Regions from separate parts of the Homo sapiens genome. Here regions 2, 3 and 4 are each reported to be linked to region 1. Evidence: microRNA targets listed by miRTarBase, many of them from high-throughput screens and not tested one by one. Region 1 holds a microRNA gene; each other region holds the end of a gene's coding sequence.
Evidence for each region. The annotated mature microRNA hsa-miR-6127 reads UGAGGGAGUGGGUGGGAGG and lies in region 1 at 2,175-2,193, shown strand. An mRNA with a match to its seed (bases 2 to 7 or 8) in the 3' UTR can be bound and repressed. Matches are read on the target gene's strand: a 7mer-m8 pairs with bases 2 to 8, a 7mer-A1 pairs with bases 2 to 7 and ends in A, and an 8mer does both.

Region 1 (7,118 bases):
CAGCTGCCTAAACTGCAGCTGTGGACCCAGGCATCCCTGCAATCTTGGGGGCCCGGGAAGGCCCCCCGCCCCACCCTTCAGGCTCAGAAGTGTCTGCTCCCACTGCCTGGCTTCTCCCTCCTCTTGGCGCCCACTCTGATCTTAGAGCAAAGTTGGTGCTGAGCCTGGGTGCTGTCGCAGCCTGGCTGGGTGTGGGCATGCTTGGGGCAGTGCTGACACACTAGACCCCTGCTGCCTTGGCCCCCTCTGGACTTTGGGCACTGACTAGCATGGAAGGAAAGCCAAGGGGAAACTGAGGGCAGCTCGGCACTGGCCTGCAGACGCTCCTTGGCATGAACAGCCTGGGCACCATGAACAGCAGCAGGAGACAGACAGGCTCCTGGGTGGAAGGGGATGGGTCCCTGGTGAGGCCCTACCTTCAAGCCAGGGAGGGCCTCAAGGCTGGGGGCCAGGCTGCCAGTCCCACACACCAGAGTGGGAACTTATGGTGTATTTTCTGGGCTTGCCTATAGCCACCCATGGACCAATCAGTATGCACTTCCTCCTCTCTGAGGCTCATGAAAGCTTCAGGCTCAGCCAGAGCTGGGCAGACATTGGATGACCAGCTGCCGAGAGGAGCTACCCGCTCCAGGGCCTCCTCTCTGCTGAGAGCTGCAGAGATGGCAGAACAACTTGCCTGCAGAAAGGAGCTTCCCATTCCAGGGTCTTCCCTCTTCTGAGAGCTGGAAAGTCGACAGGATGACCTGCCTGCAGAGAGGAGCTTCCCATTCCAGGGTCTCCTCTCTGCTAGCAGCTGAACACTCATCAGGACACCCTGGCTGTGGAAAGGAGCTGCCCCCTGAGGGAGGCTCTGCAGGAGGCTGAGCTGTTCTATCGCTCAGTAAAGCTCCTCTTCGTCTTGCTCACTCCCCACTTGTCTGCATACCTCATTCTTCCTGGTTGCAGGATAAGAACTTGGGACCCATCAAATGGTGGGGCTGAAAGAGCTGTAACACAAACAAGGCTGAAACATGCCCCTTGCTTGCCATGATGCAGGTGAAGGGAAGGAAAGAAGAGCTGCGGCCCTCTGGGGAACCCAGACCTGGGAGCTCCCCAAGCTGGAGCTGTGACTCCCTTTTCGGGGCCCTGTGGTTCCTGGCATCTCGAAGCTTCTGGGTGCCACCGTGTTCCCCGGTGCCAGCTGTGGAAGCTGCTTGTGGTGTACTTGGTCTAGCCACAACCTCTCAGAGAGCTGGCGCCCATGCTGGCACCTGGAGCTGCTCACCCCGCTGCAGCAGCCGGCATGTCTGACTGTGTGCAGTGGCCAGACCCCATGTTCACTCACACACCCTTCACTGTTCCATGCCTGACTTGCCCTGGGCAGATGTGGAACCCAGGCTGGTAATGTGAGCTGAGTGCTGCCTGCCAGGAGGAGTGAGTGAAACAAGCCCAGTGGGCCTGAGCAAAACTTGGGCAAAGGTGCCACCAGCCACAGAGGTTTCCGGCCAGAAAATGACACCCCAAAGATCCTGTAACACCATCTCAAAAAAAAACAAAAAACAAAACCCAGCAACAAAAGCCTGTGAATTCTACCATCTAGAGACAATTGCTGCTAGTGTTTGAACAGATCATCTAGCCTTACTCACCTTAACTGATGGGATGCTCATTACCTGTCAGCACGGCACACTGCATCATTGTCAGCTTGGACCCTGAGAATGCTTTTCTTTAGATAGAGAGGCTCTGTCTCTCCCAGACTGGAGACCAATGTGTTCAGGCCTGGGCTGACCACATCTGTCTGCTTCTTCTCATGAGCATGTTTTTGTTTGTTTGTTTGTTTTCTGAAAATTTTGCCAGAGGCAGGAGGAGGAAAAGAGGAGGAGGAGGGAGGAGATAAGGGAAGGCTGTTGAAGTGGGCAGATGAAGGATGGTCTAGAGCCAGGGTTTTTGAGCTTTGGGGACTTCTTTTTCATTTGCAATCTTGTGTGGCATCTGATGTATGTCAAACAGATAAAAATGGGGATACTGGCTTGAAGGGTGGGGGCCCAGAGCTCCCCCTGACAGCCCCTCCCATGCTCCCTGGATTCAGAAAGTTCGTGGAGCTGGAATCTCATCTGCTCAGCCCATACCTAACTCACAGTGTGACCCTGGGCAAGTTATCTCATCTTTCTGAACCCCACTTTCTCCATCTACCAAGATGAGGGAGTGGGTGGGAGGTGGGAAGGCTGCCCCAAATGGCCTCTAACATCCCTTCCAGTCTCCTCCTCCTCCTCCTCCTTCTTCTTCTTTTGAGACAGAGTCTCATTTTTTTGCCCAGGTGGGAGTGTAGTGGCTGGATCTCAGCTCACTGCAACCTCTGCCTCCTGGGTTCAAGAGATTCTCCTGCCTCAGCCTTCCAAGTAGCTGGGATTACAGGCACGCATGCACCACCATGCCCAGCTAATTTTTGTATTTTTAGTAGAGACGGGGTTTTGCCATGTTGCCCAGGCTGGTCTCAAACTCCTGACCTCAGGTGATCTGTCCATCTCGGCCTCCCAAAGTGCTGGGATTACAGGCGTGAGCCACCGCGCCCAGCCCAGTATCCATCTTCTTCTTCTTCTTCTTCTTCTTTTTTTTTTTTTTTTTTTGAGACAGTCTCACTTTGTTGCCCAGGCTGGAGTGCAGTGGCTCGATCTCAGCTCACTGCAACCTCTGCCTCCTGGGTTCAAGAGATTCTCCTGCCTCAGCCTTCCAAGTAGCTGGGATTACAGGCGTGTGTGCACCACCACGCCCGGCTAATTTTTGTATTTTTAGTAGGGACGGGGTTTTGCCATGTTGCCCAGGCTGGTCTCAAACCCCTGACCTCAGGTGATCTGCCCATCTCGGCCTCCCAAAGTGCTAGGATTACAGGTGTGAGCCACCGCGCCCGGCCCAGTATCCATCTTCTTTGACTGCATTGCGTCAGCCCTGCTTGCCTGCCAGAGGAGTTAGAAACATGACATGCCCGAGGCAGAAACGCCAGCCCTGCGTGCCCTATTTTACTCTGAAGACACAAAGGACCAGAGACAAAAAAAGACTTGCCCGGGTCACACAGACAGGGGCAAGAGTTGGCAAGAGGAAAAATCAGATACTGTGAAAAGCTTCTCAAAGTCTAGTTTTCAAAATATTGAATACCCAGTTCCTATAGAAATACAGTGTGGGAATGTGTCAGTGTCCTCTTGTAGGTTGTTAATGGAGGAACCAGCTGGGTGACAAAGCTAGTTCAATGGATATGGAAAAAAATATATATGTATACCTATATATGGAGACAGAGAGAGTCAGTTAAAACAACAAGAATTCTGGAATATTCATAAAATTGCTAAATTAGATACAAAACTGGTTAGTGTTCTATAGGGCAATAAAATCATCATGTTGGGGCTATCTTCTCTATTGAAAAGAAATCATTTGCATCTCTACTAGACAAAAATAATTTGCAACTTAACAGTTTTCTACCAGTTAACAGCTATCTTTACTGAATCTGGGCTCTAATCAATAGTAAATAATAAGTCAAGCCAAGTGACATTCCCCTAGAGTGTCAGATGACCCTTAGCAGGGTTTGTTAGATACAGCTCTCATTTGACTTTGAAAGGACACCGGTTATCTATTTGCCTTATTTCCAAGTGTTGGATGATTTTACTTATCAGGCTGTTGCAAGAGTATAAACACTTCCCAAGAAATAAAAGACATCGATACTAATGCGCATATCATTAGTGTGAGAAATAAAAGGGTCAGCAATGGCCCTGTGCATGTCACAACAGGGACACCTTCAGGCGGAGAGGAAGGGCATATTCTTCCATTTCTCCAGAGCCCAGACTCCTAGACGGGAGGCAGGAGATGTGGGGAAGAGAGGAAATTCCTAGCCATGCTTGCACAGTTATGATCCATGAGGTTCAGTCTCAGAGTGGGATCAAAGGTCAAATAAATAACCAAAAAATAATTTTTAAATGACTTGAATTCTTTATGGCAGTCACATCCCATTCAAGGGTTGTGTTGCAAAATCGGCATACGAGGCAAACATTGTAAATGGTGAGTATCACCATTGTAAATGGTGGAAAAATTCTTCAAACAGCGCCACGTGAAAGACTGTATTACCGTTTCACAATAGTCTTTTGCTGTCAGTTTTGGCTCCAATAGTAGAACAGATTTCTTTTTCTTCAGTTGAGTACCAGTTGGTTAAGGTTAACCAATTCCCCCACCACTCACACACAAAGGAATTGAATCTTTGGAGACTGGAGCCACCCTTGGAGGTGAGGTGTTTAGATCATGAGGGGTTCACAGGAGCGGAGGCAGACTTGGGGACAGCAGAACTCTCCCAGCCACGGTCCCTCCAGAAATAGGCTCTTAGAAGACAGTATCCCCTGGCTGGGAGCAGTGGCTCACGCCTGTAATCCCAGCACTTTGGGAGGTCGAGGAGGGTGGATCAACTGAGGCCGGGAGTTTGAGTCCAGCCTGACAAACATGGATAAACTCTGTCTCTACTAAAAGTATAAAATTAGTTGGCCTAGTGGCACATGCCTGTAATCCCTGCTACTCGGGAGGCTGAGGCAGGAGAATTGCTTGAACCCAGGAGGTGGAGGTTGCAGTGAACCAAGATCAGGCCATTGCACTTCAGCTTGGGCGACAAGAGTGAAACTCCGTCTCAAAAAAAAAAAAAACCAATATCCCCTGCCTTACTTAAATTGTGATTCTCTCTCTGAGTCCTATTAGGCGAAGTGGAGATAGGCAAGTGTGTATATAATGCGACTCTAAGGTGCTTGTATATTTCTTTTAAAAAAAATGAGGCATAATTTGCACAGAGTAAAATGTGCACATCTCAAGCACACTGCTCAGTAGCTTACACCTGCACGCACAGGCCCTCTACCACCACTCAGATCAGAGTGCAGAGTATCCATCTCCCCAGCGAGGCGGCCGTGACCCTCCAAGTCAACAGTGCTCCCCTCCACCCGCAAAGTAACCGGTGTTCTGCTCTCCCTCACCATTGGTGCCTTCTGCCTGTTCTTGAACTTCATGTCAATGGAATCATGCGGCCTGTGCTCTTTTGTGTCTGGCTTCTTTTGAAGAGCATGCCGGTGAGATGCATCTGTGTTACGTGTGTCAGTTTGCGTGGTATTGCTGAGTGCTATTCCATCGTATGCATATGCAGTATCACACTTTGTTTGTCCCTTCTGTTGGTACAGAGTTTGGGCTATGATGAATAAAGCTGCTAAGAACATTCTGGTGCAAGTCCTCTGCCCCACCCAGCCCTGTGAACAGATACACTCAATTCTCTGCTGTACATTTGAACACCAGGAAGGAGGCATAGAGTTGACACCAGTGCTCTTTGCTCTTTTCCATCCACTCCTCCAGACCTCTGTCTTCAACTTCCTGTCTCCAGCAAAAAAAAAAATCTCCCGGCCCCTCTGCCCAGAGCCACTGTTCCTCCTTCTCCCTGACTCTCCTGCTCTCTGTTCTTTATTATGGAGATTGTCTTAGTCTCGCCTTTCTTGCAAAACCCTCCTTCTGGGCCTTTTGGGGTCTATCCTTCCATTCTTTGTCCCCACCACCCAATAAGATCAGGGTTTTGTTAGCAAGTGGTTGGGGGAGGCATTTGGAATTGGGGAGGGAGCTGTTGTGTGAGAGAACTGCCATGTGTTGTCTGTGCACACTCTTTATTCTTTACTTTTCTTGGCAGATAAAAGCACTTCTTGGGATTATTTTATGAAACGCAGAGGGGATTGTAAACAACAGATCATTTGTTGCGGAGATGGAGGCAGCATGTGTTCAAATTCAGTGTGTGTCTCTCTTTGGCTGTGTGATCTTGCACGAGTAACCTCCTGTGTCTGGGGCTCTAGCACCTCACCTATAAACTGGGAATGATGACCTCAAACTATGCCAGGCTTCCAGACAGTAGTGCGGCTGGTCTCTGGCACACAGTAGGCTCTTAGCACAATGTTTTACCTCCTCCTACTCTCACCTGGCACTCAGAGGGCCGGTGCATGAAAGAAAATTTGGAAAAAAAAAAAAAAAAAAAAAAAGAAGACAGAAAAGATTTATTGGCAGGGGAGAGTGAAGAAAAATAGGAAGAAATAAAGCCCCCCAGCTGGAAGCCAACACCCTGAATGCCTGTGAGGGAGGCAGCCCAGCCCGGAGGGGAACTGGGTGGAGCTGCTCTGGAGACATTCCCCACAGGCAAATATAGCCGGAAGCCACCAGGCAGGTAAGATGTAAAAAGATTAAGAGGACTAAGAGTTTGGAAAACAAACAGATCGGGCTGTGGGAGCCAACAAGGAGGTATTACCTCCACCTTGAGAGGGCTGGGCCTGACGTCCAGGTTGCTGGGAGATGCTAGCTTCCAAGGAGCTCACATAGGCATGAGGGTCACAAGAGAGTGGCCAGGGAGAGCCTGGAGTGCAAATGATCTCCCTCATCTGCCCATCACAGGACCTGAAATTCCTCCTGTAGTCATTCTTTCCACAGGGTAAGCCTTGTCCTCTCTGGGGTGTTTTGAGGTTGATGCTTCACCGTGGTATGTTTGCAAGATGCTAATAGGCTCTTCCTTGTGAGCCCTACTGAATGCTGGACTTCCTACTGGGTGCTTAATACACGACCTCACTTCATCATCAGAATCCCCGGGGAGGTGGCATGGTGACAGTCCCTTTTACAGATGAGGTAACTGAGGTTCAGAGAGGGTAAGTGACTCACACAAGGTCACACAGCCGGTAAATTGAATAGTTATTTATTTATTTATTTATTTATATTTGGGCACGGAGTCTCTCTCTGTGGCCCAGGCTGGAGTGCAGTGGCGTGGTCTCGGCTCACTGCAACCTCTGCCTTCTGGGATCAAGTGATTCTGGTGCTTCAGCCTCCCAAGCAGCTGGGATTACAGGCTTACACCACGACACCTGGCTATTTTTTTTTTTTTAGATGAAGTCTTGCTCTGTCACCAGACTGGAGTGCAGTGGCACGATCTCAGCTCATTGCAAGCTCTGCCTCCCAGGTTTAAGCAATTCTTTTACCTCAGCCTCCCGAGTAGCTGGGACTACAGGTGCGCGCCACCATGCCAGGCTAATTTTTGTTTTTTTCAGTAGGGACAGGGTTTCACCACGTTGGCCAGGATGGTCTCCATCTCTTGATCTCTTGATCCG
Region 2 (7,118 bases), not on the chromosome of region 1:
GTAGGCCCATTTCATGAGATGGGCAGGTGTGGCCAGAGTAGAAGGATGGATGTCAGGTCTTGGAGACGGGCCAACTAGGCACGACTGTATGACATAGATGAGACTTTTGAGCTTGAAACACCTTGGGAACATGGCAGTGTATGGACACCGAGACCTCCTAGGACAGCAGCTGCCTAATGCAAATGACCCTGTTCCCTGCTAAGGCTGCAGTGAGATGCCCTCATGGAGGGGCAGCTGTGATGAGTGAGCCCCAGGCACTCTGTTGGTGAATATGTCCACTTCTGGAATGGAATCTCCCTAGTGGGTATGGACACGGGCAGACCCAGAGGGGTCTAAGCACTGCACTGTTTCTTCCTTTGGCTCCTCTCCAGTCCGGGCCTTGGTAGCCTCTCCACTACCAGGTGCCTGACAGTCTACTGGGGGTTCCTAATCAACAGCAGCTGCTGTTGGTGGGGAGTCCCTGGGGTCTGTCACTTCTTCCCACTGCCTCTGTCTCAGTGCCTCCTGGGCTGTCAGTGTTCCCCTGTGGTCCTGCCTTGTATGAAGCGCTGGCCATGCTCTGTTGACTTAGATCATTTCAGCCAGTCTATGTTTTTTCTTGTTTTTGAAGTTTTGGGTTCAGCACAATTGTCAAAGCTTCAGTTGGCTCATGCCTGTCCTCACCTGAAGGCCATCAGTGGCAATTAAGATGCCTATCTCTTTATCTCATCCCTTCACACATTTAAGGAAAGGTGATCACCCACCTACCTTCATTTAAATGCGCAGGAAAACAATCCCACTTCCCTTCAACTGTAAACCTCGAGAAACTTGACTGCTCACAAGAGCCTTGTACGCATTTATCCATTGGGTAAAGGCCACGCCTTGCAGCAGACCATGGAAATACTAAACAAAACGCAATTCCTGCTTTAGAGGCTAGTAGCCCCATTCTGAGGTTAAGAAACGTGCCCTTTCAGTGTGGTTTCCCTGCTCTCTCAGTAGTGTGAGCTCCATCACTGCTGCACTTGACTCCTAAGCGCTGTGTGGGCTTGTGGTCAGCTGCCAGCCATGCAGCCCCAACGGGACTGCCACTTTTCCACTGGCCTCTGAAGTGCCAGTGTTCCCATGATGCTGATGTGTGAGGCACATGGCCATGTTCTGTTGACTTGAATATATTGTTTCAAGGGTTTTTTTGTTTTGTCGAGACAGAGTCTCACTCTGTCGCCCAGGCTGGAGTGGCAGTGGTGCCGTCTCGGCTCACTGCAACCTCTGCCTCCCGGGTTCAAGTGATTCTTCTGCCTTAGCCTCCCCAAGTAGCTGGGATTACAGGCCTGTGGGACCACTCCTGGCTAATTTTTAGTAGAGATGAGGTTTCACCATGTTGGCCAGTCTGTTCTCAAACTCCTGGCCTCAATGTCTCTTCTAATCAAAGATGGCTTCCTTGAGGTGGCAGCAGATTGGAGGGTGTTCTGGAACCTTTATAAGCTTTAAAAGGAAAGGTAATTAGTGAAGTTGGACTTGAAGAAGAGTGAGATTCCCGGGCAAGGGCAATTTACCTAATCTTGGCCTTTGTTCCTCTTTGGATTGGTCCCAGGACTGTGCTGGCTTTCTGAGCATCTTTTAGTCTGGAGATAACTGAGACCTGGAGGGGCCACTCAGGGATGTTCCTAACTGGTGTGGTGTGGGGCTGGGGATGGAATATGGCAGCTAGATGTTGTCAAAGGTCATTATAGTTCACCTTAAGTTCTTGCCTTTAAATGGCTTTCTGAAAATCACCAGAAGCATGAGAGATCCAGTCCCTGTACCCTCTCCCCCCTTCCTAATCCCCTAGCCATGGCAAGCAGAGTGGGGATGAAGGAATATATCGTACCCCTGACTCAGTTCTGCCTGGAGGCTCCCTTCCCATCAGCCTTTCAGCAGAATGGAGATTAGGGGAATGCGTGTGGATTTACTCTCATGAGTGTGTCCCATCTTTACCCCTTCGGAGTTGGTGGACAGCCCAACTCCACCAGTAGGAGGAAGAAGCAAAGCAGCAAAGGGCTTTAGGTAGTGGACATACCACCCAGGCATGACAAAAGGGACTCTGTGGAGCACACACTTCAGGAACTGTTTTTGAACCCCCCCATTTATGACTGCACCACTTAAACACAGACAAGAAGCTTTGTTTTGAGAATTAGGACAGTTTATTGTTTGACCAACATGCTGAGTCTTTTCCACATTTTACACAGTTTAATGTGAAATCAACATGGCGGCTATGTCTTCTGAGCCCATAACAGATGGAATTGCCACCCTCTGTGCTCCTCACAGCCAATCACTTTAAAGGGATGGGTGAGGGGAAAGTGAGGGGAGAAGTGGACACACACCGCGAGATGCAGGCTGGCCTTCAATGCTATGGAGGCTTCCCACCTCCTGAAGGAACCATCTAAACCCCTGCTGCAAGGATTTCCTGATGAAACCACACACTGCTGGGAGTGCCAACCAGACAGGGGTCTGGAGTCCAAGGAGTTTGCACATTGAGATCCCAAGGTTTTGGAACACCTAAATAGTTCATGTCAAACAAAAATTCAAAGGGTGTCCTGATCTGTGTGGGTGCCCATGACAATCAATCAGAGTAGACTTGGGGACTGGCCCTTGTGCAGTAGAGGAGCCCAAAATACCACCAATATTCTCACTCATATGCTGGGAAGAACCTAGTGTCCTAACCAAAAAGAGTAGAGATGGTCTGAGGAACACACCCACACACAGCAGTCCTTGCTGTGTAATAAATATGGAGTCACATTTGTTCACACACAGGGCAGCAATGGATGAAAAATGGAAACTTCACTGGTTCTGATCACTCCTAACTTGCTGGGTGATCTTAATAAGCAAGTTGCCCTTCTCCATCCTGGTTTTCCTGCCTGTAGACAGGAAAAGTTGTGACAGCTCTGCTTCACATAGCTGTAACAAGGTGACAATGCCTCACATTCTTTGGGGAGAGGCAGTTCGGAAACGAGTGTGCGCACAATCTGCTCGGTTGATGCACACAGACATCCTTCTGTTCAGCTGCCCCTCAAGTGGCTCAGACATGCCTCACTGTCCTCGGCTACCTGGTCCCATCTCATCCTGACATCCTCACCTGCCTTCCATCTTGTGAAGGAATGAGGCTGCTCTACCTGCAGGATGCTGAAGCCAGGAGGGCCATCCCTTTATTGTCACAACTGGTATCCCAGGGCAGGGCCTCCCCGCACTGGCTAGCCACCAGGATGATGCAGACGTTGCACCCCAGATGTGTCTGCACTCTTAACTACCACCATTTCAATCCTTGTTTCTGTTGCCAGAGATACTGAAACTGGTCTGGCCATTGCTCCCCTCAGACCTGGGAACATGACTGAATGTTTAAGGATGACAAGAAGAGAGCAGCGATAGATAGCAAGGAGGCCTCTGACCAAGGGAAACTGCTGCCAACAGCTACCAAGCCAACTAGCCTTGGATCACACAACTGCAGCCATGGTGCTCATGATTCTGATGTCACACCTTCATGTTGATGTATGTATGATCACCCAGCAAGTTAGGAGTGATCAGAACCAATGTGTTTCCACTTGTAAATAGGCTGTTTGCTTTTTCCATCTTACACTCAACTTTCCTGATGCCTGCAGAACAGGAGCTTTGTTGATAAGCTTTTAAGATTCACCCCCTTCACTCCCACCATCCCCAAAAAAGAAGGCCAAGAGGATCCTGCTAATCTGCCAGGTCACGTCTAGTCTTTGGGGAGAGGGACTGAATTGCTCAATTGAGAACATTTCCTCAAAGGAATCCTCCAATTTGCCCTCTGCTAACCCATCTGGATTCAGCAAAGATGCAATGCTCTTGCTGGGGTGCTGAGGCAATGCCATGACATCTTCTTCAAGAGCACCTAACAGTTTATTATGGAACCTTAACTCTGTGCCAATTCTACCTGCAAGCAAGGGGACAGGGATGGTGCCTGCTCAAGACAAAAATCAGGGAACCAACAACTTCTGAAAAAGAGGTCTGGCTGCCTTTCCACACCCCAGGAAGGGAGGGGCGGAAACCGCACGTGCCGAAGGGAGCGCCATGGAACCACTGAGATGGGAGGATGGGAGGAAGCCACCCTCAGCCTCAGAGGCCAAGGGGCTGGGGAGAACCCAAACTCAAAGAGAGGATGTTGTGTGCATGCTAGGAAAGGCAGGACTCACTAAGGCCATGTCAAACCAAATGCTATCTTTTACTGCTCCTCTAGGCCAGGATGGAAACACAGTCCACGGTGCCTTGGATGTGTGTGCCCCTGAGAAGGGAACTGAGTTTCTACTGTTTTATGGGATGTTTTTTTAAAAAAGCTAATCTTTAGTGCCAAGAAAATAAAAATCTACCATACGTTCATTCACTGAGACCCAGTGCAGATTCCTGTAAATGGGGCGGTCTCAGAGGCCACAGGTGATGGCCCCCGCTGCCAACCAGGCAGGACACTGTCATGTGGACTCCTGTAAATTCTCTCGAGGTAAGTAAGCACTCTTCCAACAAGCACCACTTGGGGGTGTGCCCATGGTGGGGGGACACTGGCCCACACAGGCATGCACACCCGTGCATATAAAGTACATAGAGAAATGGTGGAGATATTCCCGTGGGCTATGTTTGCCTGTAGTTTAACACAACTATGCATTATTTTATTGATGGCAAGACAATCACAAGTTATTTGACAATATTAAGTATTTCTTATTTCAACACGTTGCAGTACTTTTGAATTTCCAAAACTTATCACAATGCAAGTTCCAACTTGAGAGCAGGAGAAACAAGAATATACATTGAGCACATGTATCTCCGTGAGGATGTGTTTGTGGAAGGTGTATACACAAGTCTATCTCTATATATAATTATGTACACACATATAAAAACTAAACACATGACATCTGAAACACGTTCAAACATTGGTCCTTGCCTTCTGCAAGAGGTGCTCAGTGGGATCCTGCTTCCTCTCTTCTTCACCTGAAGATAAATTCCTTGCTAGAGATGAGCTCTGGCATACAGCCTCCTAGGCAGAGGGTGTGTGGCAGGCCCACTGCACAAATATCAGTCCTGCCAGATTCTGCTGCACTTACTGCCTGCCATTTCAGATTAATTTCTGAGAAGTTTCAAAATTCATTCCAACGACCTTGTGGAGTTCAGCCCACCATACCCCAGATGGTCATTCATCCCATCTATGACATGCCCAGCAGCAGCCTGGAGGGAGAGCCAATGACAGCAGGGAGGGTGGGGTTTACATTTTGGCCAGACTCACTGCCCATTGCACCTGGCTCTGTGCAGGCTCAGGGCAGTGAGTCTGAGTCTATTTGGAATGCTGGCCAAGTAGGTTATATCACTTAGTGGGAAGAGAGAGTTCTCTTCAGAGACTTTGCAGATTCTCAGGACTAAGCCATTCTCAGGAATGAATCAAAAATGGAAGAGATGGCTCTCTGGGGGCAAGCAGCCTTCTGGAGACCCCACCTGAACCACATCCTCAGGTGACCACAGCGCAGCCACAGTAGCCACAAAGATATGTCCACAAAGACTTCAACTGCGCCATGCCACTGGGGTGAAAACATAGCAACAAATCAGCTTTTCCAGAAAGCACTCAACAATATTAGCAGCTGAGGCTCTAAGAACATGGATCTTTCAAGGTGGTGGTTCTGCAGACAACACCCCCCCCCCCCCCCGCCTCCCCATCACAGAGGATCAACTCCAGGTGGTCCAGCTTCCCTGACATCCAGGAGGAAGGCTTCAGGATGGCACACTGCCCAACATCACACACTGAGTTTCTTAGACTTGGCCCAGGCATGTGTACTGACTGCTGGGTGGGCTGGTTAAAATATTTTCAGAAGTACACATGGCACCCCAGTCTATAAACCACGCACCACGCAGCTGCAATTGCCAACAGCACCTCGTCCTTCTGATGGCCTCTTGCTCTGCCAGTCCCTGAGGGCACAGAGAACACAAGGTTGCCTGTACCCTCAACCCCCTTCAAGGCTTTTCAGGGAAAGAGAAGGAGAGGTGGGAGCAGTTCCTCTGGGGGCTGCTGCCGGGCTGCCTAGAGCCCACAGACCTTGGTCTCAGCTCCACACGAGGTTGACGACCCACTCTGGCCATGGAAAGACAAGAGTCAGAGCTACCTTTTCAGAGGCTGATGTGTTCAACCAATGTTTGATTTAACTGGAGTAGGGCCTAGAGAGTGGGGCCAGATGGCCCCAGACTGAAGCCTAATTAATTTGCTCAGTTAATTGTTTTAATTTATTGGGCTGGGGATAGGAGGAAGGCAGAGGTGATGAATGGTTCAAAGAGAACAGGAAGGAGGAGGTGTGTGGAAAAGGTTCTCTATAAGTTTACAAATATACAAAAACAAAAAGCACATCTTTCAAATAAAAATGACTACATTTTTATCTGGCAAAAAATTGTATACACATGATTTAAATTTTTTTTAAATTTTAACAGTTTTTGGCAATCTTAATAAAGTACAATATATTACAACCAAACCAAAAAATAGTTGTTTAAGTAACAGCCGTTAAGAGTGATGTGATCCCTGATGCCCAGCCTCCCTCCCCATCCCACCCTACTCCTAAAGACAGAGAGAAAAGAAAAATCCTCCCATCTTGATAACTCGGTTCCCTCCCCCCTTAGGAAGCTAGCCAATAGGAAGCAACACAACAAGCAAGGAGTGTCATGGGAAGCCACAGGTCGGCTCTGCATTAGCAGGAGCAGCCGCCCTCGCTGGCCGGGGGCTCCTGGGGTTTGTCCAGCTTGATGTCGATCACTGCAGGGGGACGGGCTAAGGAAGATGACTCTCCTGGACAAGCTGCCACCCCACTTAGCCCTGTGCACTGTACCCTTTGGCTACTGCTCTGTTTCTCTGCAAACACCTAGGGACTTGGCTCTTGGTTTGGCTGGGCTAGGAAGGATGCAATACCAACTCCACCTTGCCTCCTCTTCCCTTCACCCGTCCACTTCCCCCAGCGCCTGTCCACCCAAGCAAAGCCTGTCTTGCCTGGGCCGTGGGATCACCATCTATACCAAGGCCAGGGAGTCCCTTTCCCAGAAGCCTTCCCTCGACCAGTGCTCAAATGCCAGCTCCCAGCCCTGGCCTCAGCCCAGTTACCTGTCAGCCCCACTCAAAGTGC
Region 3 (7,118 bases), not on the chromosome of region 1:
AGGAGAAAGCTGGAGGGCCCTGCCCCACCTGGGAAGGGGTGTCTTCCCTTTGGCCTGTGCCCTTCCCAGGTCCCTAGGCTGTGAAGAAAGACCCAGACTCAGCTGTCCTCCCAGCACCCCTTTACTAGAGACCACAGCAGACAGACCCCTGGCCAGGCTTCTGCCAGGCTGCTCCTGTCCTTTCCCTCTGGGCAGGGGCCCCGTTCTCAAGCCCTGCCCTTTGACCAGCTCCATCTGAAGAAGAGAGAGAGGGAGGAAGCAGCTCTTTCCCCAGCCCCAGTTTTTTCCTGAGACTTAGCAGGGGAAGCAGCGCTGGCTCCGTGACAGCTGCTGCATAGGTCTGCGCCATGCTTCTCCCCAAAGGAGCCACTAGGAGGACCTTTGCCATGCCATGCTGGCTGGCCTGGCCATGCCACCCTCTAACCTGTACTAATCCCTCCTCCTTCCTCCTCTGGTGACTTCTCCCCTCATTCGTGGTCTGTCACTCCTATTCAACCTTCTCAGTTTGTGTCTCACCAGGCCCACTAAGCGGGGTGCTGCTTGATCCCCCAGGCTGGTGAGACACACAACGCCAGAGCAGTCATTTGATTTGTTACTTTTTTTTTGTCTGCAAGGTGGTCATGGTAGCTTCAAACTTCCTAGGAACCTATCCCAAATTAATGGCCATCATTGGTTATGATGATTGCGAGCTCCCCAACAGCTCTGAGGCCTCTCACGCCAAAGCCTTCATAGTACTCCATCCACAGCCCAGCACAGAGTTTCTGAAGAGTGCCTCTGCAGAGCTCAACAAGGGGCCAGGGCTGGAGAGACGCGCTCCTTATCTTAGCGACACACCCCGGCCTGGCATACTTACAAGCAGCAGTTTCTGCGCTGCTGATAGTGCTTCTTTTTCCCTCCCTTCTTGGAGGGACTTGTGAATGAGTGCCCACCAAAAAAAGGAGAAATTTTTTTAGTAACACTTTTTATGAGAAAGATATATTAGGTAGATAGCTTTGTTGCTTTAAAAAGGAAACATTTACTCCATTCACCTGTCGCTGCGGACATCCCTCCCCAGAAACCACAGCAATGCAGTGCTTGACTGAAAGTATGATTGTTCTTGTTTTCAGGGAATAGAACAATTGAAAAAGGAAGAGAGAAGATGGGCTAAAAAAACAAAATGGATGAACATGAAAGCCGTTTTTGGCCACCCCTTCTCTCTAGGCTGGGCCAGCCCCTTTGCCACGCCAGACCAAGGGAAGGCAGACCCGTACCAGTATGTGGTCTGAAGGACCCCGACCGGCATGGCCACTCAGACACAAGTCCACACCACAGCACTACCGTCCCATCCGTTCTCATGAATGTTTAAATCGAAAAAGCAAAACAACTACTCTTAAAACTTTTTTTATGTCTCAAGTAAAATGGCTGAGCATTGCAGAGAAAAAAAAAAGTCCCCACATTTTATTTTTTAAAAACCATCCTTTCGATTTCTTTTGGTGACCGAAGCTGCTCTCTTTTCCTTTTAAAATCACTTCTCTGGCCTCTGGTTTCTCTCTGCTGTCTGTCTGGCATGACTAATGTAGAGGGCGCTGTCTCGCGCTGTGCCCATTCTACTAACTGAGTGAGACATGACGCTGTGCGTGGATGGAATAGTCTGGACACCTGGTGGGGGATGCATGGGAAAGCCAGGAGGGCCCTGACCTCCCACTGCCCAGGAGGCAGTGGCGGGCTCCCCGATGGGACATAAAACCTCACCGAAGATGGATGCTTACCCCTTGAGGCCTGAGAAGGGCAGGATCAGAAGGGACCTTGGCACAGCGACCTCATCCCCCAAGTGGACACGGTTTGCCTGCTAACTCGCAAAGCAATTGCCTGCCTTGTACTTTATGGGCTTGGGGTGTGTAGAATGATTTTGCGGGGGAGTGGGGAGAAAGATGAAAGAGGTCTTATTTGTATTCTGAATCAGCAATTATATTCCCTGTGATTATTTGGAAGAGTGTGTAGGAAAGACGTTTTTCCAGTTCAAAATGCCTTATACAATCAAGAGGAAAAAAAATTACACAATTTCAGGCAAGCTACGTTTTCCTTTGTTTCATCTGCTTCCTCTCTCACCACCCCATCTCCCTCTCTTCCCCAGCAAGATGTCAATTAAGCAGTGTGAATTCTGACTGCAATAGGCACCAGTGCCCAACACATACAGCCCCACCATCATCCCCTTCTCATTTTATAAACCTCAAAGTGGATTCACTTTCTGATAGTTAACCCCCATAAATGTGCACGTACCTGTGTCTTATCTATATTTTAACCTGGGAGACTGTTGTCCTGGCATGGAGATGACCATGATGCTGGGGTTACCTCACAGTCCCCACCCTTTCAAAGTTGACATATGGCCATCCCATTGGCCAGAATCCACAGACACACCTAAGCCTGTGGCACTGGGACAGAATAGATTTTCCATTTGAGAGGCACTTCCTGTGTCAGTCTTGTTTGAAGGAGGTGGTGATGGTGGATAGAGGTGAAGGAGGTAGGGAGTGCCCTCCAAGTGCAAAAATAACAAATATGATTATTGACCATCGGGGAATTCTCACACATTGATTTGTTTTTTAAGCAATTGCCAGAAACCCCCTTTTTTAGCTTTTGCTTGGGGTGGGGGTAGGAGTTAAGGTTTATTCAATCCTGTCCTGGGTAGGGCGAAAGTTAATCTAGCCATGTGATTTTTCAGAAAAGTAAGTGGAACATGCTGCCACTTTTCAATTCTGTCAGTGCTTCCACATGGAAACAAAATGCAATAAAATTTTTCCAAAACCTGTTCTGATTTAGCTCTCTCTTGAGGTGTTACCCTTAGTGGGAGGCCGACTATCCACAATCTACTTGAGTTTTCTCTGGTTGGGTGTTTGTTTCATTGCTCTGTCTCTTGAATGAGGATACTTTATTTTTTTTGTTTTAAAATGCATTTATGGTCCCTCTCTTGAACCAGCTTGCCCCACCAGGCCTCTTTCCTTTGCTTTCTGCAGCCTGAATCAATTCCTTTGTGCTGATGGGCTCTCCTAAGAGCTTTCCTGAGTCAGTTAACTTTACCTCGTGTCTACGGTGCTATTCATGCGATACGGGCGAGGCTGAGATGCTAAGATTAAAAAGAAAAGAATGCTGTTTTAGATCAAGTTGATAGCATTTGTTTTCCATATGCTTTTTTAAAATTTTTTCATAACATACAGCTCAGTTAGGTGTATGAAAGAAGTGTTATTGTATTAAATAACTAGAGCAGGGCTACAGCTCTGGCCCTCCCCTAGGGGGAAGAGATTGGTAATACTCCATCTTCCAGGGCATTTTTTAAAGTGAGCCAGGTTAGCTCTTTTCCCCTGGCATTTCTCAGGAATGCAGTAGATAGTGCTGAAGATGCACTGACTTTTTTTTAGTCCTAAAAATAGAAACTCCTCCTTTAAAGCTGTGCATACTATGCTTATCTTTCCAATAGAGTGGGGTTCCTTCAGATATCCTATAGGATTCTGCCTCTGGTTTTGTATAGGCCTTGGCTAGAAAGAGTCAATGTTTCTGAGCTCTCAAACCAGTTGCTCTCAGAAGATAGGAATACCCCAAGGTTCCTGGCATTTTTCCTATTTCATTTTTGTTCAGACTGATATTTTGCCAAGAGCACAATGACTGAGGAATGTAGCCATCATTTGCAGGGTAGTGATTGGTTCCCAGCCTGGCTTCCACACAGGACAGGAAGGGAAAGCATCCCTGAGCTCTCCTCAGTATTTCCGGATGTAATGAAAGAGGACATCTTTCTACACAAAGTCAGCCCCAACTTTTGGCTTGGTCACAGGAGTTCTGATAGTACTGTTTGGTGCACTCATGGGAAATTGAACCAGTCGTAGCCACAGTCTTTCAGAGCCTGGGCTCTGGGGAGTGGAAGTGAAAAATAAAGATGTGGCTTGTTGGATTGTGATCCCCAGCTTGCTTTCCTTCTGTCAACTCTGTCAGGTTTGTGTTCATAGCAACTAGACTGAATATGCAAAAGGCTTAGATCCAAGCAAATCTATAATCTATGCATATTTGCATGGGCTTGGTAATATCATGTACACAAAACACATTTGGGTAGAAGTGCATGTGCTAAATCTCCTTTTAGTCCCACCATTTTGTCTTCTTCATACTGTACTTCCTCTTTTTTGTTTGAGACAAGGTCTTGCTCTGTCACCCAGGCTGGAATGCAGTGGCACAATTAGAGCTCACTGCAGCCTTGAACTCCTGGGCTCAAGTGATTCTTGTGCCTTGGCCTCCTGAATATCCAGGGCTACAGGCACGTACTACCATGCCTGGCTAATTTTTTTGTTTTTTAATAGAGTCAGGGTCTCACTGTGTTGCCCTAGCTAGTCTCAAATGCCCGGCCTCCAGCAATTTTCCTGCCTTAGCCTCCCAAAGTCCTGGGATTACAGGCGTGAGCCACTGGGCCCAGCCCTGTACTTCTTGAAAAAGCCCCAAGTATTAGCTTTTGCTCATCTGGCTAGGCCACTTAAATAGTTAGAATCCACCGTCCCCTAATGCAGAAACCGTTTAGGTGAGGTAAATTAACAAACATTTTAAGCCGGGCGCGGACACTTCTCACTGTGGACATCCCTCACGCCTGTAATCCCAGCACTTTGGGAGGCCGAGGCGGGCAGATCACGAGGTCAAGAGATCGAGATCATCCTGGCTAACACGGTGAAACCCTGTCTCTACTAAAAATATAAAAAAATTAGCTGGGCGTGGTGGCAGGCGTCTGTAGTCCCAGCTACTTGGGAGGCTGAGGCAGGAGAATGGCGTGAACCCGGGAAGTGGAGCTTGCAGTGAGCCAAGATCGCACCACTGCACTCCAGCCTGGGCGACAGAGTGAGACTCCGTCTCAAAAAAAAAAAACAAACATTTTAAACATGTATGTGAGGTTGGCATTACACAGAAACTCCTCTCCGGGTGGGCTGGGATGGGCTTTCTCAGCCAGGCTAATGGGTTTTAAATTTCTCTCTTTTCAAGACTTGCAGTGCATCAGCTTAAAGGGTGAGCCAGCCAGTAGAGGGGAAGGCGCCCCACCTAGAAGGTGCCCTTAGATATCAAAGAAATGTGAAAAGAGAAAGATTTTGCTAGAATCCTCCTCAAAGGTGTTCTTGAGGTTGCCAGACCAGCAACGTCAACATCAGCATCACCTGAGAACTTGTTAGAAATGCACATTCTCGGTCCCCACCCCAGGCTACCGAACCAGAAACCGAGCGGGGCCCAGCAGCCCGTGTCTTAACAGCCCTCCAGGTGATTCTGACTATCAAGTTTGAGAATCCAGTTGGGGCTAGCAGGAGTCCCCCCTCAGGTGGTCCCTGATGCCTGCTGGTGATATGGGTCTTGTGTGCTGCTGGGCTCAGCATAGTGCAGTTGGGGTGTGCTGATTGTGAGACAGGCACGTGTTCCCTCCGCGGAGAAGCCACTGAGACTGCCTTCCCTCATAAGCTGCGGCCTCCCCAACAAACAACTGCCAAGACATCAAAGAAAGTCTGTATGAAGCAGATCCAAATTATTAGCCTGCCCACCACTCCTTGTGCATCTCATCAGTGGAACCCATCTCTAGACCAAGGGCCCTTTGGGTGAAGAAGCAGCCCGGAAGGGAAAGAGAAAAGAGTAGAACCAAGGGACCTCCAGATGGGAGCGGCGGCCGGTGAGTAGTCTAGAGCCAGGGGCATTGTAGCAGCCTGGATACATGACCTGAACACGTCTTGACCTTTGCTTTCTACGTGTGGGTTTCAACACCCATGTGGCTTTTTCTTGTATTCTTTAAATATGTATCTGGCTTAGGATCACCTCATAGAAGAGAAAGAATTCACAGTGAAGCAGAAACAAGCCACTGACCAGCGTACTCCCAACCTGAACCTTCTTTTTCTCACCCTCTCCCTCAAGTAAACATCTTGCTGACTTGAGCAGTGTGATTGCCGTAGCAAAGCAGAGTGGCCCCCAGGGATCCCGCTCTGTTGGGCCCACAGGAGGAGCCGATGAAGCTGATCCAAGGAGTGAGGACAAGCGCTGCAGAGGGACGTTCGCTAAAAGCCTTCTAGGGGCCGCACATGCTCTAACACGGACATAAGGATGCCCTGAATTTCTGCAGCTGAGGCCATATAGTCTGGTGACCAAGTATTTGGGTCCTGGCTTCAGTCTTTGGTTGAAATGTCTGCTTGGCTACTTATTACCGCACCTACTACCAAAATATGACCTTGAGCAGTAACTTCTTTAAGCCTCAGTTTTTTCATCTGAAAACGGGAATGATAATCTAAATCACAAAGTTAATGGAAGGATTAAATGAGGGTGATGAATAGGAATGTATAGCGTCTGGCCCTGGTATGGCTTTATAAATGTTAGCTGTGTTGGAGCTGTGCTTTTCAAACCATTGGTCACAGCCATTCATGGTTTGCAACCAGCATGTTTTTCAAGAAAAATGTTTAATGCATTACATATTGCAGGATAAGTATTGTTTTATGAAGCTTAGGGAGTTGTGTGTATATGTGTTCTGGAATGCAACAGAAAAATGTTTCCTCTTGTGGGTTACAATATAGAGGTATGAAATCTCTGATGAGGAGAGACAGTGTTATCTGGCCCGCTATGAAGAGACACATTTGCATAGGCTGCTCCCTGAGGCTCTGGCTTTCTACATCTGATGATACAGGGAGCAGGGAACAGCCTGTTCTCGTTCTGTGGGGCTCAGCTGAGTCTGTTCTGCACAGACTCTTCCTTCCTCGGGAGCCTTAGTCCTAATACATTCATTTTGGAGTGTTGGTGAGTTTGTTCACAGATCACAGCTCATGTGTCACCCAGACTGACCTGGGCCAAAAGGCCCATCACACACCCTGCAAGAGCTTCTGGTGTCGACTATGACCCCCTTACCAGGCATCAACCATTTTTGTTCGTTCTCTTGAGCCTGAAGCTACTATTACTGCTCCTCTGCAAACCTCAAGCTTAAGAACTTTGCCTGCAGGATCCCTTTAAATCCACACAAAACTCAAAATTGAGTCCTACCAGGAAAAAGCAGCCCTCAGCCCATTTTTATACATCGGATTTGTTTGCAATATTTTCTTTCTAGACTCAAAAGTCAACACTCCCTGAAAGTTTGTCGACTTTACTGCTGAAGA
Region 4 (7,118 bases), not on the chromosome of region 1:
GTGTTTGGTTTTCTGTCCTTGCGACAGTTTGCTCAGAATGATGGTTTCCAGGAATAGGACATTTTCTTTCTTTTTCTCTTTCTTTCTTTCTTCTTTTTCTTTTTCTTTTTTTTTTTTTTTTTTTTTTTTTTTGAGATGCAGTCTCACTCTGTTGCCCAGGCTGGAGTGCAGTGGTGCAATCTTGGCTCACTGCAACACCCACCTCCTAGGTTCAAGTGATTCTCCTGCCTCAGCCTCCCAAGTAGCTGGGATTATAGGCACCCGCCACAACATCTGGCTAATTTTTGTATTTTTAGTAGAGACAGGGTTTTGCCATGTTAGCCAGGCTGGTCTCGAACTCCTGACCTCAAGCGATCCACCCGCCTTGGCCTCCCAAAGTCTTGGGATTACAGCCGTGAGCCACTGTGCCCCGCCCCGAATAGGACTTTTTCTGTTGCCTCTTAAATGGTTTAAAGAGGGCAGCCAATAATGGGGTCAGAAAGCTTCTCTCTGCCTAGCTTCCCAAAAAAACAAAGCTGCCAGCTGGCTGTTGGACAGGTGAGAAGTCTTTGGTGAGATGCTTCATCATCCTCTCTTTCCTGAACTCTTCACGTGTACCAGGGCTCTGGATAGGAGGGGGTGCTCCAAGAAAATGTTTAGGAAAGACTAGGGTTTCCTGATAGAATGGGAGGAATCAACACACTATCTCCCCATTGGGTGTCTGTGTGGGCAGCCAACTTCTTGCTGTGCCCTGCATCTCCCTGCGCAGGGGAGAGGAGCATTAGAGAGGAAAAGCTGGGGGCAACGAGGAGCTTGGGGCAGTGTAGCCTGCACTCCACAGTCCAGCATGGTTAGGATGTGTGGGTTTCTGAGTCCTTTCTGGCTACTATAACAACAATACCATAGGCTGGATGGGTTGTAAACAATGAAAATTTATTTCTTATAGTTTTAGAGGCTGGGAAGTCCAAGATCAAGATGTCAGCAGATTCAGTGTCTGATGTGGACTCACTTCCAGGCTTACAGATGGTGCCTTCTGGTTGTGTCCTCACTTGGTAGGAGGGACAGCTCTCTGGGGTCTCTTATTAAGGGCACTAATCCCATTTATGAGGGCACCACCCTCATGACCTAATCACCTTCCAAAGGTCTTGACTTCAAATATCATTACATTGGGGGTTAGGAATTCAACCTAGACTTTGGAAGGACACATACATTTTGTCTATAGCAGGGGGTGGATGGACACGAAGGAGGGTAGCTGGGCTTCTGCAATCTAGGTGATATGTCACCCAAGAAAGCGGTAAGAGGCTGCATGGTGTCTGCCAATGGTGGAATTGGAGAAGGTATGGGAGAAGCAGGGGACACAACTCTCATATCAAGAAACAGAGGAGGCTGGGCACGGTGACTCACATCTGTTATCCCAGCACTTTGGGAGACTGAGGCAAGCAAAGCAGTTGGGGTCAGGAGTTGGAGACCAGCCTGGTGAACATAGCGAAACCCCATCTCTAGTAGTAAAAATACAAAAATTAGCTGGGTGTGGTGGCGCGCACACGTGTAGTCCCAGCTACTCGGAAGGCTGAGGCATAAGAATCGCTTGAACCCGGGAGGCAGAGTTTGCAGGGAGCCAAGATCGCACCATTGCACTCCAGCCTGGGCAGCAGAACAAGACTCTTGTCTCAAAAACGAAAACCAAACAAGCAAACAAACAAAAAAACATGATTGACTCAGTGATCAGAAAACATATAACTATTTTATATTCATACTTCCTGCAGTTAATGTCCCAGTTGACTGGTTAAAAAGAATATTTGGGGGCCAGGCGCAGTGGCTCATGCCTGTAATCCCAGCACTTTGGGAGGCCGAGGCGGGCGGATAACAAGGTCAGGAGATCAAGACCATCCTGGCTAACACAGTGAGACCCCGTCTCTACTAAAAATACAAAAAATTAGCTGGGCGCGGTGGCAGGCACCTGTAATCCCAGCTACTCGGGAGGCTGAGGCAGGAGAATGGCATGAACCCGGGAGGCGGAGCTTGCAGTGAGCCAAGATTGCACCACTGCACTCCAGCCTGGGCGACAGCGAGACTGTCTCAAAAAAAAAAAAAAAAAAAGAAAAAGAATATTTGGCAATACGGAAAGTTCCCCTTGGGTTTTCTGACTCCAAGCCTGGTGTTTTTGTTTGTTTGTTTGTTTGTTTTCATTTGCACAACATTGCCTTTCCCCAAGAGTACTGGATAACAATGCCCTCCCTCCAAGTCCCAAGTCACTATTGCAGAAGTCAGGACCTTAACACACACATTTCAAAGTTACTGACACCTAGTCAAACCTGGTGCCTTAGCAATGCAATCTTGTAATTTCCCAGGTCAAACAGATCTTCAAGGGTTGCTCTCATGGCAGAATTTGGTGGTAGAAGGAAGGAAGCAGAGTCTCAGTCTTTGTGCAGCTTGTAGGGAGTTCCCTTTTTCTCAAGCCCTTGCAGCATCCTTCCCACTCTAAGCTTAAAGGAGACTGTGTAACCAGCAGTGCTCACCCATCCTGGGCCTGAGTTTGAATCCCAGCTCTGGAGTTCAGCTGTGTGACATGCAAGACCTTGTCCCTCTCTGAAGTCCTTCTGTAAAATGAGGTGGCTGCATTGGGTGATCCCATTCCACACCATGAGTCTATAGTCCTATCATCCTGGGTATACCGACGTCTGGTGGCCAACTTTGGTCCTTGCAGCTAATTCAGGTTTTTTCTTTGTTTTTGAGACATAGTCTCGCTGTGTCACCCAGGCTAGAGTGCAGTGACGCGATCTCAGCTCACTGCAGCCTCTGCCTCCCAGGTTCAAGCGATTCTCATGCCTCAGGATCCTGAATAGCTGAGGAATACAGGCACCTGCCACCACACCTGGCTAATTTTTGTATTTTTAGTAGAGACAGGCTCTCGCTCTGTTGCTCAGACTGGTCTCGAACTCCTGAGCTCAAGTGATCCGCCTGCCTCGGCCTCACAAAGTGCTGGATTACAGGCGTGAGCCACCGTGTCCAGCTCAGTTTTTAATTTTTTATTTTTCAGTATCTGGAGTGTTTAGCACAGCCAGGAAACAAAACACACCAGAGAGGGCCACCTTGCCATGTCACCAACGATGCAATAACTACCGAAGAAAGGCCCCTTGGGTGGCTATGGAGGAGCAGAGGTCAGCAGAGGAGATGGCCAGCAAAGTGCTCTCCTTTGCTCTATTTCTTTTCTTTTGAGACGGAGTCCCACTCTATTGCCCAGGCTGGAATGCAGTGGCATGATCTCGGCTTCTGCAACCTCCATCTCCCAGGTTCAAGCAATTCTCCTGCCTCAGCCTCCCGAGGAGCTGGGATTACAGGTGCCCGCCACCACACCTGGCTAATTTTTGTATTTTTTTAGGTGAGACGGGGTTTCACCATGTTGGCCAGGCTGGTCTTGAACTCCTGACATCAGGTGATCCGCCCACCTCAGCCTCCCAAAGTGTTGGGATTACAGGCGTGAGCCACTGTGTGATTCTTAGCATGTTGTAAGTTTGTCATTGTTCCATTTCCAAAGCATTCCAACCTCCATCCCCGCATGCGTTTGCACTTCTTTAGATTTGTGGGTCTGAGAGCGCATTAGCACCCCATCCACATGCAGTCTCCTGCCCTTCCAATCCTCACCCTGAAAACCTTCCTGTAGTCACAGACCTAGTCATTTTTCCCACGGCTACTCTTGAACTCTTTATGGACCTCTGCGCTCGCTTCCTCTTCTGTGAAAACAAATGAGTTTATGTAGATTAAGATCTAGCCAACTTCTGTAAAGGATCAGATGGTAAATATTTTAGGCTTTGCAGGCTAGTGACTCAACTCTGCATGAAAATAACTGCAATGTGTAAAGGAATGAGCATGGTTGGGCACCACACTGAAATTTGAATTTCATCTCCTTCCCAGGGGCCCCAGAAGAGTCTTCTTCTTCGGACTTTTTCCCCAAGCATTTAAATGTAAAAACATTTCTAGCTTGCAGGTGGTATGAAAATAGGCAGCAGGCTGGAGGTGACTGAGGAGCCTATCTAGTCTTTTTTTTTTTTTTAAACAGAGTCTCGCTCTGTTGCACAGGCTGGAGTGCAGTGGCGCCATCTCAGCTCACTGCAACCTCGGCCTCCTGGGTTCAAGCAAATCTGCCTCAGCCTCCCGAGTAGCTGGGACTACAGTTGCGCACCACCACGCCCAGCTAATTTTTGTATTTTTAGTAGAGACGGGGTTTTACCATGTTGGCCAGGCTGGTCTCAAACTCCTGGCCTCAAGCGATCCATCAGCCTCAGCCTCCCAAAGTGCTGGGATTACAGGCGTGAGCCACTGCGCCTGGCTGTATCTAGTCATCTTTAAAGACCCTCCCATCTCTGAGAACCCATGAAACTGCGCAGTCCTCTGGACTGGAGCTGGGGTGTGTCAAAGGCAAATCTTTGCCTGCCTTCTCAGAACACCATATTCAGAGAAGGCCATTCAGGACAGATTTGTCAGGCTGTTCCGAATGCCCAGGTCTGGGATGAGATGGCCTATCCATGGAGGATTTTTATTTTTTCGAGACAGGGTCTCACTCTGTTGCTCAGGCTGGAGTGCAGTGGTGTGATCTTGGCTCACCACAGCCTCTGCTTCCTGGGTTCAAGTGATCCTCCTGCGTCTGCCTCCCAAGTAGCTGTGTTACAAGAAAGGGGTCCTGATCTAGACCCCCCAAGAGAGGGTTCTTGGATCTCACACAAGAAATAATTCAAGACGAGGCGGTAAGGTGAAAGCAAGTTTATTAAGAAAGTAAAGGAACAAAAGAATGGCTACTCCATAGACAAGAGCAGCGCCTAGAGCTGCTGGTTGCCCACTTTTATGGTTATTTCTTGCTTATTTGCTAAACAAGGGGTGGATTATTCATTCCTCCCCCTTTTGGGACATATCGGGTAACTTCCTGATGTTGCCATGGCATTTGTAAACTGTCATGGTGCTGTCAGGAGTGTAGCAGTGAGGACGACCAGAGGTCACTCTCGTGGCCAACTTGGTTTTGGTGGGATTTGGTTGGCTTCTTTACTGCAATCTGTTTTATCAGCAAAGTCTTTATGACCTGTATCTTGTACGGACCTCCTGTCTCATCCTGTGACTTAGAATGCCTCCACTGTCTGAGAATGCAGCCCAGTAGGTCTCAGCCTCATTTTATTCAGCTCCTATTCCAGATGGAGTTGCTCTGGTTTAAATGTCTGACAGCTGGGACTACAGGCACACACCACCAAGCCCAGCTATGTTTTGTATTTTTTGTAGAGATGGGGTTTCACCATGTTGCCCAGGCTGGTCTCGAACTCCTGGGCTCAAGCAATCCACCCACCTTAGCCTCCCAAAGTGCTGGGATTACAGACACCCAACCCATTTGGAGGATTTTTTTTTTGAGATGGAGTCTCGCTTTGTTGCCCAGGCTGGCGTGCAATGGTGTGATCTTGGCTCACTGCAACCTCCGTCTCCCAGGTTCAAGTGATTCTCCTGCCTCAGCTTCCCAAGTAGGTAGGATTACAGGCGCCTGCCACCATGCCCAGCTAATTTTTGTATTTTTAGTAGAGACGGGGTTTCACCAAGTTGGCCAGGCTGGTCTCGAACTCCCGACCTCAGGCGATCTGCCCACCTCAACCTCCCAAAGTGCTGGGATTACAGGCGTGAGCCACTGTGCCCTGGCCAGATGTTTTTTTAAAAGAGAGAGAAAGAGAGAGAGAGAGAGAAAGAGAGAGAGAGAGGGAGAGAAGGAAACTTTGCACTCTGTTATCTTCAACCTCTTACTCTACCTTCCTCCCTAGCCGAAGTCCCAGTCCTAAAGCCTAAGAGACCCTCATTGGAACTTGACTTCTGCATAATCCGCCTGGGTGCCCTTGGGCATCCGGGCCTCAGGCCTGGGTCTGACGCCTGGGAAGTTGAGCGTGGCATAATGGAGCTCCTCTTGGCTCTCCTGGGATTCTGGGGCTTGAGTGGATGATTTGGGTTCTGGGAAACTGGGCAACTGATACTGCTTTTTCTGGTTCTTCTTTGATTCTGGGGAGGGAGCACCTGGTGGAAGAGGGGTCCGAGGACTGTTTGGTGTGGCTTTCTGATTCCGCTTCTGAGCCTGAGGGAAGAACCACCATCCTTCATTCATTCATTCAGCAAATATTTGAGCACTTACCACGCGTCGGGCACTGATTTACAGCACAGAGTGAAACTAAGTCCCTGCCCTTGCCTTGCTGAGCTTGCATTCCATCTTGGAAGGAGGAACAGACAATAATTAGCAAAAGTACAATGACTGGTAAGTGACAAATGCCATCAAGAAATTTGAGCACCTTTAGAAGGCAGCGAAAGGGAGGGTGGGATGACTGTTTAATAGGTCATCCAGGGAATTTCAAGACCGGCCTGGCCAACATAGCGAAACCCTGTCTCTACCACAAATACAAAAATTAGCCGGGCGTGGTGACACATGCCTGTGGTCCCAGCTACTCAGGAGGCTGAGGCAGGAAAATCACTTGAACCTGAGAGGTGGAGGTTGTAGTGCGCTGAGACTGCGCCACTGCACTCCAGCCCGGACAACAGAGACAAAATCTGTTTCAAAAAAATAATTGATAGCCGGGTACGGTGGTTCACACCTGTAATCCCAGCACTTTGGGAGGCTGAGGCGGGTGGATCACCTGAGGTCAGGAGTTTGAGACCAGCCTGATCAACATGGTGAAACCCCGTCTCTACTAAAAATACAAAAATTAGGGGGGCATGGTGGTGGATGCCTGTAATCCCAGCTACTCAGGAGGCTGAGGCAGATGAATCGCTTGAACCAGGAGGTGGAGGTTGCAGTGAGCCGAGACCTTGCCACTGCACTCCAGCCTAGACAACAACAGTGAAATCCCATCTCAAAAAATAAAATAAAATAAAAATAAATAAAATAAAGAATAGCATGCATGCACGGAGAGAAAGACTGGAGGGGGTGAGAACGGAAGCAGAGAAGGCATGCAGAAGGGGCCAGTGGTGCCCGGGGTGGGGTGGGGGGTGTTGATGCATGGCTTGTAGTAGTGAGGGAAGAGTAGGGAGAACTGGCTTGGTTGTATTTTGAAGGGAATTTGCTGATGGATTGGTTGTGGGGTGACAGAGAAGAGAGGAGTGAAATATGATTCTAAAGCTTTAGA

Region 2: miRTarBase lists RAB6B as a target of hsa-miR-6127. Seed matches in the 3' UTR shown: 7mer-m8 at 5,194-5,200.
Region 3: the mRNA of ZDHHC3 is a reported target of hsa-miR-6127. Seed matches in the 3' UTR shown: 7mer-m8 at 2,097-2,103, 7mer-A1 at 4,591-4,597, 7mer-A1 at 5,441-5,447 and 8mer at 5,886-5,893.
Region 4: miRTarBase lists SIGLEC10 as a target of hsa-miR-6127. Seed matches in the 3' UTR shown: 7mer-m8 at 5,709-5,715.

What each region holds. Positions count from the first base shown.
Region 1 is chr1:22,628,403-22,635,520 of GRCh38, reverse strand. It overlaps MIR6127 (microRNA 6127), which reads left to right and starts at 2,155; the gene lies at 2,155-2,263.
Region 2 is chr3:133,822,099-133,829,216 of GRCh38, forward strand. It overlaps RAB6B (RAB6B, member RAS oncogene family), which reads right to left. Exons shown (of 8, transcript NM_016577.4): 8 at 2,137-6,754. The coding sequence ends at 6,690. It also overlaps a transcript of SRPRB not described here. Among named protein-coding and RNA genes, the nearest start is that of SRPRB, 20 kb to the left of the region's middle.
Region 3 is chr3:44,920,836-44,927,953 of GRCh38, reverse strand. ZDHHC3 (zDHHC palmitoyltransferase 3) reads left to right here. Exons shown (of 7, transcript NM_001135179.2): 7 at 1,107-7,118. The coding sequence ends at 1,265. Among named protein-coding and RNA genes, the nearest start is that of TGM4, 50 kb to the right of the region's middle.
Region 4 is chr19:51,405,296-51,412,413 of GRCh38, forward strand. It overlaps SIGLEC10 (sialic acid binding Ig like lectin 10), which reads right to left. Exons shown (of 11, transcript NM_033130.5): 11 at 4,725-6,076. The coding sequence ends at 5,804. Among named protein-coding and RNA genes, the nearest start is that of SIGLEC10-AS1, 6.9 kb to the right of the region's middle. RefSeq lists enhancers at 2,588-2,637, 3,655-4,155.